2 linked regions of the Homo sapiens genome follow. The protein of the gene in region 1 interacts with the protein of each later gene in a pairwise test. Each region holds a gene or a part of one and is shown in the gene's direction. Other genes may lie near its edges. The genes, in order: SALL1 and DCLK3.

Region 1 (7,604 bases):
AGCCACCTCAACCCTTCCTTTTCCCTCTGCCCCCGCAAACTTTCAGACAAGGAAAATACAAATAAACCCCAGGTGGTTAATGCGGGTGCATTCAGGAACACCCCCCCACCAACACACACACATGCACACACACACACAGCTGGCCACCCGCTCTGTCCCACCCACCTCCGGGCAGGGGAGGGACTGGGAACCTGATCTCCGGGCTCCTGCCCCGAACTTTTCCCCATCAATAATGTTGATACCATCGATGTGCCTCGTCCCCCGCCCCCGGGGCGCCGCTGCCGCCTTTTCGCCGCTTTTTGCCTTGCTTAAGAAAACGAAACCTCCACTACTGCCCTTCTAGCCTCGGCCGGGGGCCAGCGGGGCCTTGAGCTGGGGACTGAGGAAACAGGGGTGCAGGGAGAGCACTTGGAGACGTCCTCCATTTCTGGGGTAGGGTGGCCAAGCACCGTCAACGGAACGGAAAAGAGGGTCTGGGGCCCAGGCAAGGCCTCATCCCAGGCCCCATCCCAGACCCGAGGTCAGATCGGGCCAGAATAAGATACTTTTGAGGGTAGAAGAACCAGGCCTCAGAATGCGCGAGCCTTGACGCCCCCCACGTTGCCCTTCGTAGGACCAGAGGTTGAGCAAAGAAGCCTGGAAACCTCATGGCTGGGACCCCAGTTGTGGCCTGCGGCCTTGGGGCACAGACCTTCGGCCCCGCCAACCCACCAAGGATACTCTAGGACTTGGGAAAACTAAGGGGACGTATTAGTAGGAACGAGCATCAATCCCCCAAGATGGGAGTTTGCAAAACTCGCCAAGCGCCTCCCCCGGGTGCGGTTCCTCTCCGCCAGTGAGGTCGCGACCCCGGCGCAGCTGCCGCCTCACTTCGGGCTATCCCCATTCGCTATTGCGGATCAGCCCCTAAGTACCAGGCCCTCTGGCGGAACCTGCAAGTCCAAACTTCGCTACCCGGATTCCCCAGTAGTCCCCCCCCCACCCCACCTCCACCCAGAGTTAGGAGGGTGCTACCGCACGTAGAGCGCGCAGGTCTCTGGGGTGAGCAGGGCGCGTGGAGGGACTCCAGGAGTGGCACCTCACTCCCGCTCGCCGCCTACTTTCGACCCGCACAAAAATAAAGAATAACCCCCACTCTGCTTCTGTTTTTATTGATGTATTTCTTTGCATCGCGGCACGCGGAGCCTCGCCAGCGCCCTGACACTGCAGCGCCCGCACCAGCGAACCACGGAACTTGGGACCGAGACAATGGCCCGTAATTGATGTATTGCCATCAACAATAAAGACCAATTCTCCTCTCCCCGCCATTCCGACCATCCCCCTCCTCCCATCCCCCCCTCCTCCACCTCCCATCTCCTTTCCCGGGGCCACCGAGGGAAAGAAAACAAACAAGAAATTAGCGGGGGACGCCAAGCGCAGATCGAAACGCCCGCCTCTACGCCGTCGAGGACGCAAAAAAACGAAAAAAGTTATTAAAGTTTGGATCCCCCAATTTATTCGTCTCTGCTCGCCCATTTTTAATTAAGCATCGCGTAGCTGCTTTTCGCATGTTCATTTCGTTTGGTTGTTTGTTGTGGTGTTTTTTTGGGGGGGGGGAATTTTTTTTTTTCCTACACTTAATCTTAAATCACACGTAGACCAAGTAACAAACACGTGTGAAGTTATTCCCGGGAGCTTCCTGCTGCGCACGCGGCGCGCACCAGGAGAAAAGCTTTGCGGGACCGCCAGCTCCGCTAGGTTCCTGGCTGCATGCGGTGCCCGGGAGGCCCGGACTTTCAAGAAGCCAAGATTGTTAGAGAAGGATGCGGGCGGCTCCAAACACGGGCACATTCCGGGAAAGGAGTGTGCAAGTGCACACAAACGCGTTCGTGTACCTGGGACAGTGTGGATTGGTGGGTGTGCGAGGACCCCTGTTTGTGAGATGGAGGCGGGTGCGGGATTTACACGTGCTCCCGTACACGTTCCCCGGGGTCTGGGAGATGCGAGCCGCTCACACCCCAGGAGTGCGCAGATCCATCTTTGCCGAGGGATCTCTTTAAATATTCAGTGAGAAATAATGGCATTTGAAGCACCACCTATGGAAACATTATTATCTTCATTCTTCAACATCAGCCCCACTGATAGCTTCGTTTGTCTTTTTATCAAAATCTACTGTACCCATCAGGACCTGGCGAGAACGGGAGAGCGAGGCGGAGAGGGTGTGAATGTGTGTGTTAGGGAGTGAGCGAGGGCAGAAGATAAGTAAGAGAAAAGGTGGAAAACGGACGAGCAGGGAGAGAGAAGGGAGAAGTTATACCAATAAAAAAAAATAAAGTCAGCAGATGAAAAACAGAAACATTCATCGGCACACACACACATTTACACCTTAAAAGAAAAGATTTAAGAAGCTAAGAGAAAGGGAAGGGTCCTCTACCGGAGCGCAGTACAGGTCCGGAGTACACGAAGTCGGCTCGGGAGACCGGTGCCCACTTCGCGCGAACCGACCGTGGCACCGGCCAGACTCAAGGGCGCTCGCGAATTGGGGCGTCCTTATGAGCCCTCTCCTTTCCTGATCGTGAGATAGGGCAGGGATTGTGTATCTGCACCCCCCTCCTCCCCCATTACTCAGCCGAAGTTTAGTTTAGTTTAGTCCTTCGGGCGCAAGACTTCGAGAACCTTGGAGCGAGGAGACCCCGAGGCGCGAGGGGAAAGAGCTAGGCTGAGCCGCGTACCGAGTCTCAGGTTCGCGGGCGCCTGAGCCCGGCAGAGGGATCGGGCTCCTGGCTCTGGGCTCTGGGGCGAGGGTAGGGAGGTTGCATCTCAGCTTGAGGGAGATGGTGATAGAGCGAAAAGTTCGGGCGCCGCGCTCGGCAAGTGCCCAAAAAGTGGAGGCGAGCTTCGGCGCCGCCAGGCAGCCTCGGACAGAACACCTCCCCACCGCCCTCCCCCCACCCCGCTTTCCGGCTCTGCGCCGCCACCTCGTCCCGGAAGGCTGGGGCGCGGCCCCCTCCCCAGGGCGGGGTGCCCAGGGGTCCCAGGGACTGGCCCAGTCCAGTGCCGGGTCCGCCCGGGCTGTGTCTCCCTAGGCCGGTGCTCGCTGCTGCGCTCAGTGTGAGCCGCAGCCCCTCCCCTCCCCCCGGCCGGAGCTGAACTCGGAGCCCAGGCCGGTCCCCGCTCTCCGCCCGCCCGGGGCTCTGCGGCGCCACCGCTGCCGCCGCCTCCCCGCGGAGTGACGCGCCCTGCAGCCAACCGGGGCAGCCGGGGGGGAGGTCCGGGAGGGGTCCTGGGCGGAGCCGGGCCGCCCCCTTATCCCACGGGCTCGGGGCTGCTTCTCCCGAAAACTTCAGCCCTAATTGTCCTGGGAATGTCCGAGGTAGAGAAAGGGAGCGAGGGAGCAAGCAAGAAGCTGGAGGATCAGTGCCCCTGGCGGGGAGGGGATGGGGTGGCGGGAGAACTGCCCCTCCCCCCAGCCACAAACCCATCAGGTTCCCAAACCTTTCCTGGATCCTCTTCTCCGCGCCCCCGCGAGCCCGGGATCCAGGGGATGGAGAACTCGGGGCGGAGGAGCGCCGAGCCAGGCGGGAGGGAGGCCGAGCCGTGGGCGGGAGGCGGACCGGCGTGGGGCTGGCTCTTCCCCACTCGCTTATTTTTTTTTTTAATGGGGGTGGGGGTGGGCTGCTTTCTGGTAGCTCTTAAAGAAACGAAGAAACACTCACGAAACGGGACGCCCTCCCCCCTGATCCCGCCGCGGGACTCCCTCCCCCCGCGGGCCGGCGCGCCTCGCCCCCGAGTTGGGAAGTTCGCAGCGCGCCGGCAGCCCGGGTCCCCAGCCCTCGCCGCCCGGCCCCACCCCCCACCCGGGGCGGCTCAATTCCGGGGAGGGCATGCTAATTTGGGTCGGCCCAGCCCGGGATTGTGGGGGGGGGCGAAGGAGGGAGGGAAGAGGGAGGGGAGAGGGAGAGAGCGGGGGGCGCCTGCCGGGGCGCCGGGCCCGCAGTGGAGAGGAGGCCGGCCCCCGGCGGCCGGGCCGCGGAGTCCCGGGCGGTCGCAAAGAGGGTTAACCCAGTGTCGGGCGGCGCGGCGCGCAGAGCCAGCCCCGCGGCCGGCTTATTGGGCCAGCGCGCGGAGAGACAGGGGTCTGCAGCAAATCACGAACTAATTGATTAAGGCGAGCGGGTTTGAATAGCGCTGGCCCGGTGCCAATCGCCTTTCAAAGAGCCCCTCTATGATTAATCGCAATGCATTATTGATAATCATAATTATAGCAGGACACATGCGCGCTGCGCCCGGGGCCGGGGAGCCGGGGAGGGGGCGGGCGGGCCGGCGGGCGGGGGGAGCCGCCGCCGCCGCCGCCGCTCGATTTCCGTAATTTTGAGAAGATTTTTTTTTAGTAATTTTTTATTCTGCCCCAGCTGATGTTTGAGCCAGCATGTCGCGGAGGAAGCAAGCGAAGCCTCAACATTTCCAATCCGACCCCGAAGTGGCCTCGCTCCCCCGGCGAGATGGTGAGTGCTCCGGCCCGCGCCGTGGACACACACACACGCACTCACACTCACGCACACTCGGACCCACTCACACGCGGCTGGCCCCCGCGCCCCCTACCTCACCGCCGCCGCGGCCCCGATTGCTTCTTCCACTCGGCGTAATTTTTTTTTTCTTTTTAATTTTCAATGTGCCTTTGCTGGGCTTTCCCCCGCTGCCCCGGGGAAAGCGAGCACATCTCCCGGCAGGATCTTTCCGGAGTTGTTGGGTCCTCCCGGGGGAAGGAGGGCGGGCATGCCGGCCTGGCTTCTCCGTCCCTGCTTTTCCGGGGATCCCAGCCGCGGCCAAGACCCGGGAGCCCCATGAGGCGTGGGTGCGGGTGGAGGTCGCCCCGGCCTGACCGCACGGGGCCCCTAGCGCTCCCGGCGCCGGCCCCAGGGCACCCGGCCCGGCCTCCGCCGCCCGGCCTTGCTGCCAGCGGTAAGGAAGTTTACTTCGGGCGCTGGGCTGAACTCCGAGCGTGGGGGAGTTCGCTGCGCCCCCCTGCCCCCACGCACACTCCCCCTCGGCCTGCGAGGCAGAACCGGGTGTCTTTGGAGGTTCAGAGCTGCAAGAAGATGGGGACTGGTGTCGGGGCGCCAGCGCCTGACCCGCTGGGGTTGCGGCCGGGGTGGAGAGTGCTGCTGGCCGCCAGTTGTTCCGGAGACGGTGCAAACGGACGGGGAAAGTGTCGGGGTCTGGCTCGCAAAATTTATCTCCGCATCTCTTCCCACAACACTTGCACCCTCTGCCCCCCAAAATCTTTCTGGTCGGTATGCGCCCTCTGCGGATCGTGGTGCTCCCTACTTCCAGGGGGGTCAGGGAAGAAGTCATAGAATAGTTTTCCAGGTTTGCGGGTGGCCAGCCAGAGTGGAATCCCCCCTGAAACAGGGGCACTTGTTTTCTCCGATGGAGGCGACAACTGTGGGTCCCGAAGGGGCTGAACAAGTCCAGAACAAAGTTTGTGTGTGGGGGCTATGGCAGAGAGTGGAAGAGATCCGGGCAGGGAGTTGGGGTACAAAGGGAGGACACCTGGAATCCCTCCTTGCTCCTAAAGGTGTTTCACGGTACCGGCCTCAAAGCTCCCAGGCCTAGCGCCCGAGGCGGTGTAGCGGCGCCCGGACTCGGGTCCCCGGGTCGTCCCGGCACGATGCTGGCCTCTCGGCTGTGGGAGGACGCACAAGGAGCAATCTCGGCGGGGTCTCAGCGGCTCCGGATGCCACTCGGGATGCCCACGCCCTAGGCGGCATTTTGGGGTGTGAAGGAGGGAGCTGGGCCCCGACAGAGCTCCGAAGCGTGACCCTGATCGGCACCTCAGCCCACTAAGCTGCGGCCGCCCGGGCCCCCAGGTCCCCGGCTCGTTTCCCAGAGGCCTGCCTCTCGGTAGAGCTGGGGCACAGTGAAGCGAAGGGACCCCCGCTCCCTTTACCCCTGATGTCGGGAAAGGGGAATCCTGACTTGGGGTCCCTGTAAAAAAATGGAGGACTTGAAATTAATTAAGAAATGCTTTACAATAGCCCTCCTCCCGGCCCCCAGTGTTTCCTCAAGCTTGAATCCTTACCCACGGCCTCTGCGATTTCTCAGTCCGCTGAAAAGAGCCCCTGAACCCCGCTTTCCACCCCAAGCGAAAGCGAGCACGCGGGGTAGATGGAGGTGAGATGACCCAAGGCCGCAGCAGCTGCGCCGAGTATTTTTCCGGGTTTTCTCAGCTTAGTTTCTTCTGCTTCCCGCAGTCACACTCATCTTTCCTAAAGTTTCTGGTGAGACCTTTTGCACCGGAAAACTGTTCAGGTTAACAGTTTGTACACAAAAAAGCAAACTAGAGATAAGAGAGCATTATATAGTGTGTTTTGTAAATTTGTACTGGTTTTCTACATTTAAAAAAAAAAAGTCTCGGCCTTCGAGGAGAAATGATGCGTGGAAGATCTTTGCCTTTTGCCTTCAGTATCAGGAATTTTTAATAGTTAAGTCTTCTCATAAAGCAATAATATAAAAGGAGTTCACTACCTCTTACCATTATTCTTTATTAGTACTATTTTTTTCAATTTAGTTTATTTGAGCTTTGAGGTAAGTTAAGTAACTCAATCAAGTTTCCTTTCTTTCTCTTTTCTCTCCTTCTTTTGATTTCTTTCTCTTCCTTCCTTTCTTTTTTCTTCGCAAAAGCTGGTACATTGTCCTAAAGAAGCAGTAAACTGTTAGGGGCTCCCTAGGAAACACCCCCTCCCAGCCTTCTTTCCTCACCTCTCCCCACCCCCTCCTCTTTTTCTTCAGTAGTAATGGTTTTAGGTTATGACTGTTTTTACATGGTTGAACAATAAGTTTGGGAGAAGTTGCCTAGAGGGTAGATTTTGTAATAGGGTTTCAGGATTTAGTGTGTTGTAATAATATTAGTACACAAGTAATCCTCCCCCAACGCTGGACATACAGGAGGGCCTAACATACTCCAGTTCTTTTATTTGGGAGTAGTTCTGAAATAAATGGCATTGAAAGTTCATGACATAACTCAAGGTTACCTTTTAAAAGTCACCTTTTCTGCAGTGAGTTCAGCAATCTCATTCTTCTCCCCACATATAACCCATACTTCTAGGAGTAGCTGGATTTTCTGTTTTGTTTTGTTTTTTACGTAAAGAAACATTGTTATATTTTTAGAAGGCAAGCCCCTTTTCAAACATTCTGATTACTTTTTCTTATGTCTTGAGATGGTCTTTGAAATATGACAAATGAAATATGAAACATACCAAATTAAATCTAGTTCATGCACTTCTCATTTATCAGCACCTCAGATTGTATGACTTCTACCCAGAGTGAGACCTAGAAAAGTTTGTAGACCTAAGTTACAGGAGCCCTAAAGAAGCAGCTCCCAAAGCTGAAAGCAGCTAGGGCTGCTTGGTGTTGTGTGTCCTGCCTGTGTGTGTTTGAGTGTGTGTGTGCTTACAAAGAAAATCCAGACCATGCTAAGGAGCCACACAGACAGCTTCATCTGAAGCAAATGCAAACAAAATACAAAAACAAAAACAAAAATGAGTATTTGGTCGATTTCAGGATGCTGGTATTTTATTTTACTTTAGTGTACAGCTGCTATGCCAGAAACACTCTAAACTTGG
Region 2 (7,271 bases), on another chromosome or scaffold:
TTGTCTTGACGGTGAGGTTACTGGGTAGGGGCTTGGATGGGCTGCTTTAGTTGGAGGCTCTTGCTTGAAGACGTTTTCCTTTCCTTGGATCCAGGAGGGTCATTGTATCTGATCTGGCATCCTGAGTTTCCTCACCTTTTCCTTTGGTGGCCTCTTGATAATGTCTAAATTTTGCCCGTCTGCTGGTGGAGCAGAGCCCCTTTTGAAGATGCATACGTGGGGGAGTTCTTTGAAAAGAATGTTTTTGTTAACTGCTTGGTAATGTAGGTCAGAAGAGAGAAATCTAGGGAAAGTGAAAGAGTGGGAAGAAGACATCTGTACTGGGAATTGGGGAGGGGAGTTTGGCTCCATCCTCAGAGTTCTGAAGCCTCCTGGTGACCTGGGGCAAGTCACTGAACTTCTCTAGGAACCTCAGTATCTTCACCATTCATTTAATAGCAATTGTTCAGCCAGCCTCAGAGTGTTCTTTGATGGTCAAAGGGGAAATATTTTCATGGACTCATCCAGTGATTATAGGGGAAGCCCATAAAATCTTTATACAGAGACAACTGGCAATCTCTTGGGGACAGTGGTGTATGTAGAGGCATCATGATGTGGATAGCAAGTGGTAGAATAGAGATAATCACCAGATCAGTGGCTGCATGAAGGGACAGGGAAGTCTCCAGAGCTGCTTGGGCTGGTTTTGAAGGCTAAATGTTGACAGAATTTGCAAAGGGCAGGGTGTCATGTAGTGTGTAGTTATGGAGGTGAGTCCATCAGAATTGCTTTCACATTTGGGCTCTGGCCCCTCAAACCCATGTGATCCTGAGCGAGATACCCAACTACTCTGAGCCTCGGTTTCCTTATTGGTAAAATGGGCATATTCAAATTGCTCTGAGGATTTAGTGATGTAAAGCAATTACCAGATATTATTACAAATGAAAAGTATTGTTATTAAAGTTACCTTTTAGCTGAATGGATTCTGTTTGGCTGCCTGGGGCCAGTACTTTTTGAATATTGCTGGACATATGAATCATCTGGGGATCTTATTAAAATATAGATTCTGATTCAGGAGGTCTAGGGTGGGGCCTAAGATTCTGCTTTTCTCCCTAGCTCCTAAGTTCTGTAGATGTTGTTTCTTTCTTTTTTTAATTATACTTTAAGTTTTAGGGTACATGTGCACAACATGCAGGTTAGTTACATATGTATACATGTGCCATGTTGGTGTGCTGCACCCATTAACTCGTTATTTAACATTAGGTATATCTCCTAATGCTATCCCTCCCCCCTCCCCCAACCCCACAACAGGTCCCGGTGTGTGATGTTCCCCTTCCTGTGTCCATGTATTCTCATTGTTCAATTCCCACCTATGAGTGAGAAAATGCGGTGTTTGGTTTTTTGTCCTTGCGATAGTTTGCTGAGAATGAAAATGTGGCACATATACACCATGGAATACTATGTAGATGTTGTTTCTTTAGGGACCACATTTTGAGTACAAGGCCCTAGGCTACTCCCTCTTGGGTAAAGCCTGAGTCCTTTGTGGGACCTGAAGAGCACTGTGTTTGGAGAGATGATGGGGAGGGTTCAGGCCTCCTAGGCAGGTCTGGCCTGGAGCTGGGGTAGAGAGAGCTAGGAATTGCTGCTGTTGAGTAGGATGTTCCTACTGGGTAGATAATGGATCAAACCCAGCTTCCTTCAAATGCCCTAGGACCAGCCTCCTGGAGGAAATTCTTCCTGGCCAAATGGCCAAATACTGCCTGCTCTTGCATGCTGGCCCTGAGGATGTAGAGATGAATAAGCCATTGGCCCATCACTGCCCCTGCCACAGTGTGATTGCGGGGAGTGGGTGAGGAGGTGTGAGACATAGAAATGTACGATTATGATATGGTGAGATGAGCACTCTGTGGCGTTAGGGTAATGGAGAGGCAGGTAAGAGAGTTAAGAAAGGGAGGAACCCTTCCTGGTGGTAATTAAATCTGAACTGGGTTTTGATGGATAAATCACTGTGTCTGGGATTGGAGGAGGGCAGAAGAGTGTGTGGAATAGTATTCTAAGACTGAGGAACAGCATGTGCAAAAGTAGGCTGCCATGATGAAACAGCTTGGTGTGTTCAGGTCACTGAACTAAGAGTTGTTTGGAGCATGGAGTGTGATGGGGAGGACTTGATCAGGGAGCAGAGCTCAGTTCATGAAGTGTATTAGTCAGGAGGGTTTTCTAAGCTTTGCTGCAGTAACAAATCAACTTCATCATCTTGGTAGTTTAACTCAACGAAGGTTACTTCTCACACACAATGTGTGTCCCTCACAGGTCAATTGATAGCCAAGTAGACAGAGCTTCTCCCAGTTTTCAGCCTTGCCATCTGGAAAATGTGGCCACTGTAGTCACCAGTGCAGGAAGAGATAGAGGGAGAGTGTCTCTCTGGCTCGTCTGGAATGAATGCAATGTTGCTTTTGTCCACAGCCCATTGGTCAGAACTAATTGTGGGCGCAGGGGGCTGGGAAATAGGGGATGGCGGCTGGGATGGAAGAAAAAGTCAGAGAATATCAACTCTCCCACATATGTCTTGTTATGAAGCTTAAGCCTCATTCTGAGGCCACAGTTTCTCAAATAAGAGTAATATGGGAATTCCTTTAAAGGAAAAAAATTCTTGTAGATTCCTAGTGTTGCTTAAATTATTTTTATTATAGTGCAGTTCAGATATGTAGTAGTTTTACATGGGTCTAAACTCTTTATACTTAGAGCTTTCATATGACCACATAACCAAAACAAATATATAAATAAAATATCAACACAGCTACAAGTCAAATACATTTGGATTAACCTCATGAATTTAATGTTCTGGATGAAGTTATTTTTGCTAAAATGAAATCCCTATTTCTGGTTATAACAGCTGTTGTTCAGGTTCTTATGAATTTGGTGTGCAGTGTGCCATGCCACAAGGTTTTATGATGGCTCAATTTTCTCATCAGTTTCCTTTCTATACACTAAACCTGATTTGTTATTTTCTCATTGGCCTGTGATAATTAAAATAATGTTTCTTGATGCCAACTGTCTCAGTCTGTTTGTGCTGCCATAGGAAAACACCTGAGCCTGGGTAATTTGTAAAGAACAGAGATTCTTTCCCAACAGTTCTGGAGACTGGCAGGCCATGATTAGGGCACCTGCAAGCTTAATGTGTGGTGAAGGCTTATTCTCTGCTTGTTGCTACACACTCCAAAGGGGATGGACCTTGTGTCTTCACACAGTGGAAGGAACAGGAACCAACAAAGGGCCTAAGCTATTTCTTTTCAGCCCTTTTGTCAGTCACTCATCCATTCTTTAAGGTAGAGCCCTCGTGACTTAATCACTTCCCCAAAGCCCCCACCCTTCAATATCACCACAATGGGGACTAAGTTTTAACATATGAATTTTCCGGGATATTCAGACCATAGCATCAACTACAGTATAAATGCAAGAGTATATATGGTGAAATTATGTGGTAGCACTTAGTCATAACATGGCCATTCAGATGATCCAGAATATGTTTCTATTGATTCTTAAAAAAAGGTGATCATGAAAGTGAAAACAGAAAGTTAAACAAAACACAATTTTGAGAACTCATGGACCCTCCTAAGATAGGTTTGAGGATCTCCTGGAATTTGAGAAACAGCTGGAAAACTACTGGAGTGTTTAATGAAGGGGACATAGATGACCAGCTTTATGGTTCAGAGACATCACTTTTCCCAGGGTGTATGGGGTGGCTGAGGGGGAGAGAGGAAGGCTGAGACAGCAGAATCTGGGGAGGCTTGCAGGTAGCTGAGCTAAGATGTGATGAGGGCAGGTGCTCAGATGTAGTTAAGGTAATGGGAGAGAGGAAGCATGGATTTGAGAGACACGCAGGAGCTGGAATCCACAGGACTTTGAGGTTGACTGCGATGTGGGAGGGGATGGAAGGGAAGAGGAGTCAGGGATGACTCTTGGTCTTGGAGGTCGAGGGTGGTTGGTGGTACCACCGACCAGGATGAGGACCGCAGGTGTCAGATGTCCATGGCAAGAACAGAAGAGCTCAAGACCAGAACTGTGTTCTGCCGTATTCACCATCCCATCTTTTCTCACTGATGTGACTTTTCCTGAACCAGTTTCTGAGAAACTGCTACATCTTGCAGTGTCTATTTTTCTTCTATGGGACATTAATTAGTGCTCATTAAGATGATTTGAATGGCTTTATTAGCTTTTCTATTGTGCTTGCTGCTTCTGTCCTGTAGGAGCAGATTCTGGCAATATTACCTGATTAAGCACATACTTTTTTTTTGTTTTCTGTATGTTCAAAGGAGGTGAAAAAAATTGAGAAAATTGTGGATGGTTCTGAGCTAGAAGCTGTCATGCCATATAATGTGAGATTAGTTTTCTGCCTTCAGTTTTTATTTTAAGAGCACAAACGATCAACTTTCCACTCTGTGTTTTTGGATGGAGATACTGAAAATTCTTTGAGGAATGAGTAGAGGTTAAATGATCTCTAGGTAATTACATAAGAAGTAAAATGGAAACACTGCACTTTGGGGAAGTGGAGGGCAGAGAACACAAAGCCACACAAACAGACAAAAATTTCACAAACCGAAAATAAACCCCTGTGGTTTCTAGAGTAAAATCTCATGTTAATTAAAATTTTGGCATTACATATTTTAAAATGTAACTTGGTATTTACTTTTTGTATAAATAATTAACCTAATGCACCAACTGATGGAGGGAAGCAACATGAGCAGATTGCCAGAAGTGGCTTTTACTTTCCTGTTCCCACTTGAGAAACTTATGCTCTCTCCTGGTCTCAGGCATTGTTTTCATAGCAGAGCCTCTGAGGCCCTCCAGGGAGATGTGTAGCCTCCCCTGGAGGGCCTCTGAGTCTATCTGGAACTTGTGATAAAGGTTCTGTGAGCGAAGGCATACCTGTCACCCCCAGACACCACATGCCACTTGAGGATGGCACCATGTTTTTTCATCCCAGAATCCCCCCAGACTAGCAGGGCATTTCCCCTAACAGCAGTTTCCATACCCACAAGCTAGTCCAAGGCACCCTACAGGAAGTATCTTTGGGTCTCAGGGTTGGTTGGAGCAGCAGATTTCCTAGCAATAACAGCCATAACTTTTTGGGAATGTCTCTTCCAGGAATGGGTTAGACAAGGCTGGTTATTCATTTTAGTTCAGATGTTGTTTCGGTTTCAGAGGGCTACAACCAAAGTCCCCTGGAGCTTGGGTCTCTCCATTTGTGCCAGAGGCAGTGGTTCTTGCCAGATAACCCATGTGCTCCCCTTCTTTAGCAGATGCTATCAGTCCCTGTCCATGGTCCCTGAGCACACATCTTTCCTGTTCTGGTGGTTCCCACTGCAAGCCACTGCAACACTGTTGGATGACTTTCTTTGGTTGCAGGGGCATGGTTGGCCCCCATCTGGTGCACACACCCAGAAGTGCTGGGCAGCTAATGTCCTGGGAGCAGCCCTCAACCACCAATGGAAGGGAATGGATGGGTGAATATCACAGTTTCCTTGCCCCTCTGGAAGGATAACTCTGAGGCATGTTCTACTCAATCTCTCCAGAGGTTCCCAGCAGAACTGAGCCCAGGTTGGCCATAGCAGTAACCTACTCTTTCATGCCACTGTCCTACTTCACTTTTCCACTCTCCTCTAGTGCTGTCTGAGATCACCTCCCAAATCAACCCATATCCTTGCCCTAGGCTGTGCTTTTGAGAGAGACCAACCCAGGAATCTTTTGGGGTGGTTGGGGTTATGTGACCAGCTCTGGCCACTGGACTGTAGGTGGAAGTGCCATGTGTCACTTCTCATTCCAGGCAGTTGAAAGCCAGGATACCACTATTGTCTTTCTCGTCTGCTGCTGGGGCCACCTTGGAGGCCATGTGCTTTGAATGGAGGATCAGAGATGGAGAAAGCTGCTAGGTTTACACTGGGATTCATACAAGCAAGAGTCTTTTATTGTGGTAGCCCTAGAGCTTTTTGATATTTATCAGTTGGGGCACCTATCTATCTGATAAACAGTGTCACACTGTCGTTTTTTGGGTGCCACCACTGATGTCAGCCCATCCTCCACTTCTCCATCCTACACTGGTCCATAAGAACTCTTGGGATCTGCTACCCATGACCTCCTTTAATGCTTCTCATTTCCAAACTCCCCTCCTCTTCAGTAGTTTGATTAATATTAAAGTAAAATTTATGTTTCTCTATGGTTTTTAATTCATCTGGAAGTTATTTTGTTATTATTTGTAAAATAAGAATCTAAATTCATTTTATTTCCAAATTATTAACCAGTTGTTCCAATATTGAATAAGAATCATTCTAACCTTCCTGGCTAGTTTGTAATCACCTTTCATTATACGTTAAATTCTCATATAAAGTAGTATCTATTTTGGAACTATAGTTTTTTTTCTTAAATTCTTGTGCAAGTACCAAGACATTGTAATTGTAGCTCTGTAATATATTTTACTATCTTCATTACTCACTACTCATCTCCTTCCTGTCCTCCCTCAAAAATTGTATTAGTGTTTCAGTTGCACAAAACCTACAAATTACAAATGGGAAGAACTGATATGTCTATTAGGCTTTTACATTCTGGAATGGACAGTCATTTAAACGGCTTTTCTAATTCCTCTCACAGTTTTGTAGTTTTCCTTATGTTGCTCATACACATTTTTTGTTAGTTATTCCTAGCAATTTTCTATATGTTGACATATAAATGTATAAATTTTTTCATGTGTTTTTCAATTTATTGCAGTTATGTCAAAAGCTTGTATGTACATATAAGCTTCACTATACATATAGAAAATTCATAGATAGTTAATATATGTAATTAATGATTTTTTTTGCCTTATAGCTGACTACTTTCTAATTATATTTGGAAGTAAAAACATATAAAAACTATTTCATGAGAGTCCATGTACTCTAATTGCCTTTCCAGGTGGCTCAGAACAAACACATAGGTATGTCCTAGAATTGAAATAAGTTCATGGAGACAGGGAAAGATGGAGAGAAAAGATACATGAAGGAGTTGGCTATGTGGTAGCAATCATAGGTTTTCTCCATCACAGAACATGTGCAGAGTTACAGGAGCCATGAAAACAAATAGCTTGGGTTCATTGTGGGTTTTCTCTTTGAGATATAATCTCTCACACATTTAAAACTTACCTGTAAGTGTCTCTGACTGGTCCTAGACACTACTAGCACCAAATCAAAGTCTTCTCCTAGATGATTGAAACTTGTCAGTAATAATGTGTTTACGTTTTCGGTCTGGATAAGAAAAGATGATGT

Evidence for each region.
Region 2: the proteins of SALL1 (region 1) and DCLK3 interact in a two-hybrid assay, tested with the Homo sapiens proteins (one study listed by IntAct).

What each region holds. Positions count from the first base shown.
Region 1 is NC_000016.10:51,148,046-51,155,649, reverse strand, and holds the start of SALL1 (sal-like protein 1), read left to right. Parts: upstream 1-4,379; 5' UTR 4,380-4,408; coding exon 4,409-4,484; intron 4,485-5,052; exon of another isoform or gene 5,053-5,269; intron 5,270-7,604. UniProt on the Homo sapiens protein: Transcriptional repressor involved in organogenesis. Plays an essential role in ureteric bud invasion during kidney development.
Region 2 is NC_000003.12:36,754,486-36,761,756, reverse strand, and holds part of DCLK3 (serine/threonine-protein kinase DCLK3), read left to right. Parts: intron 1-7,271.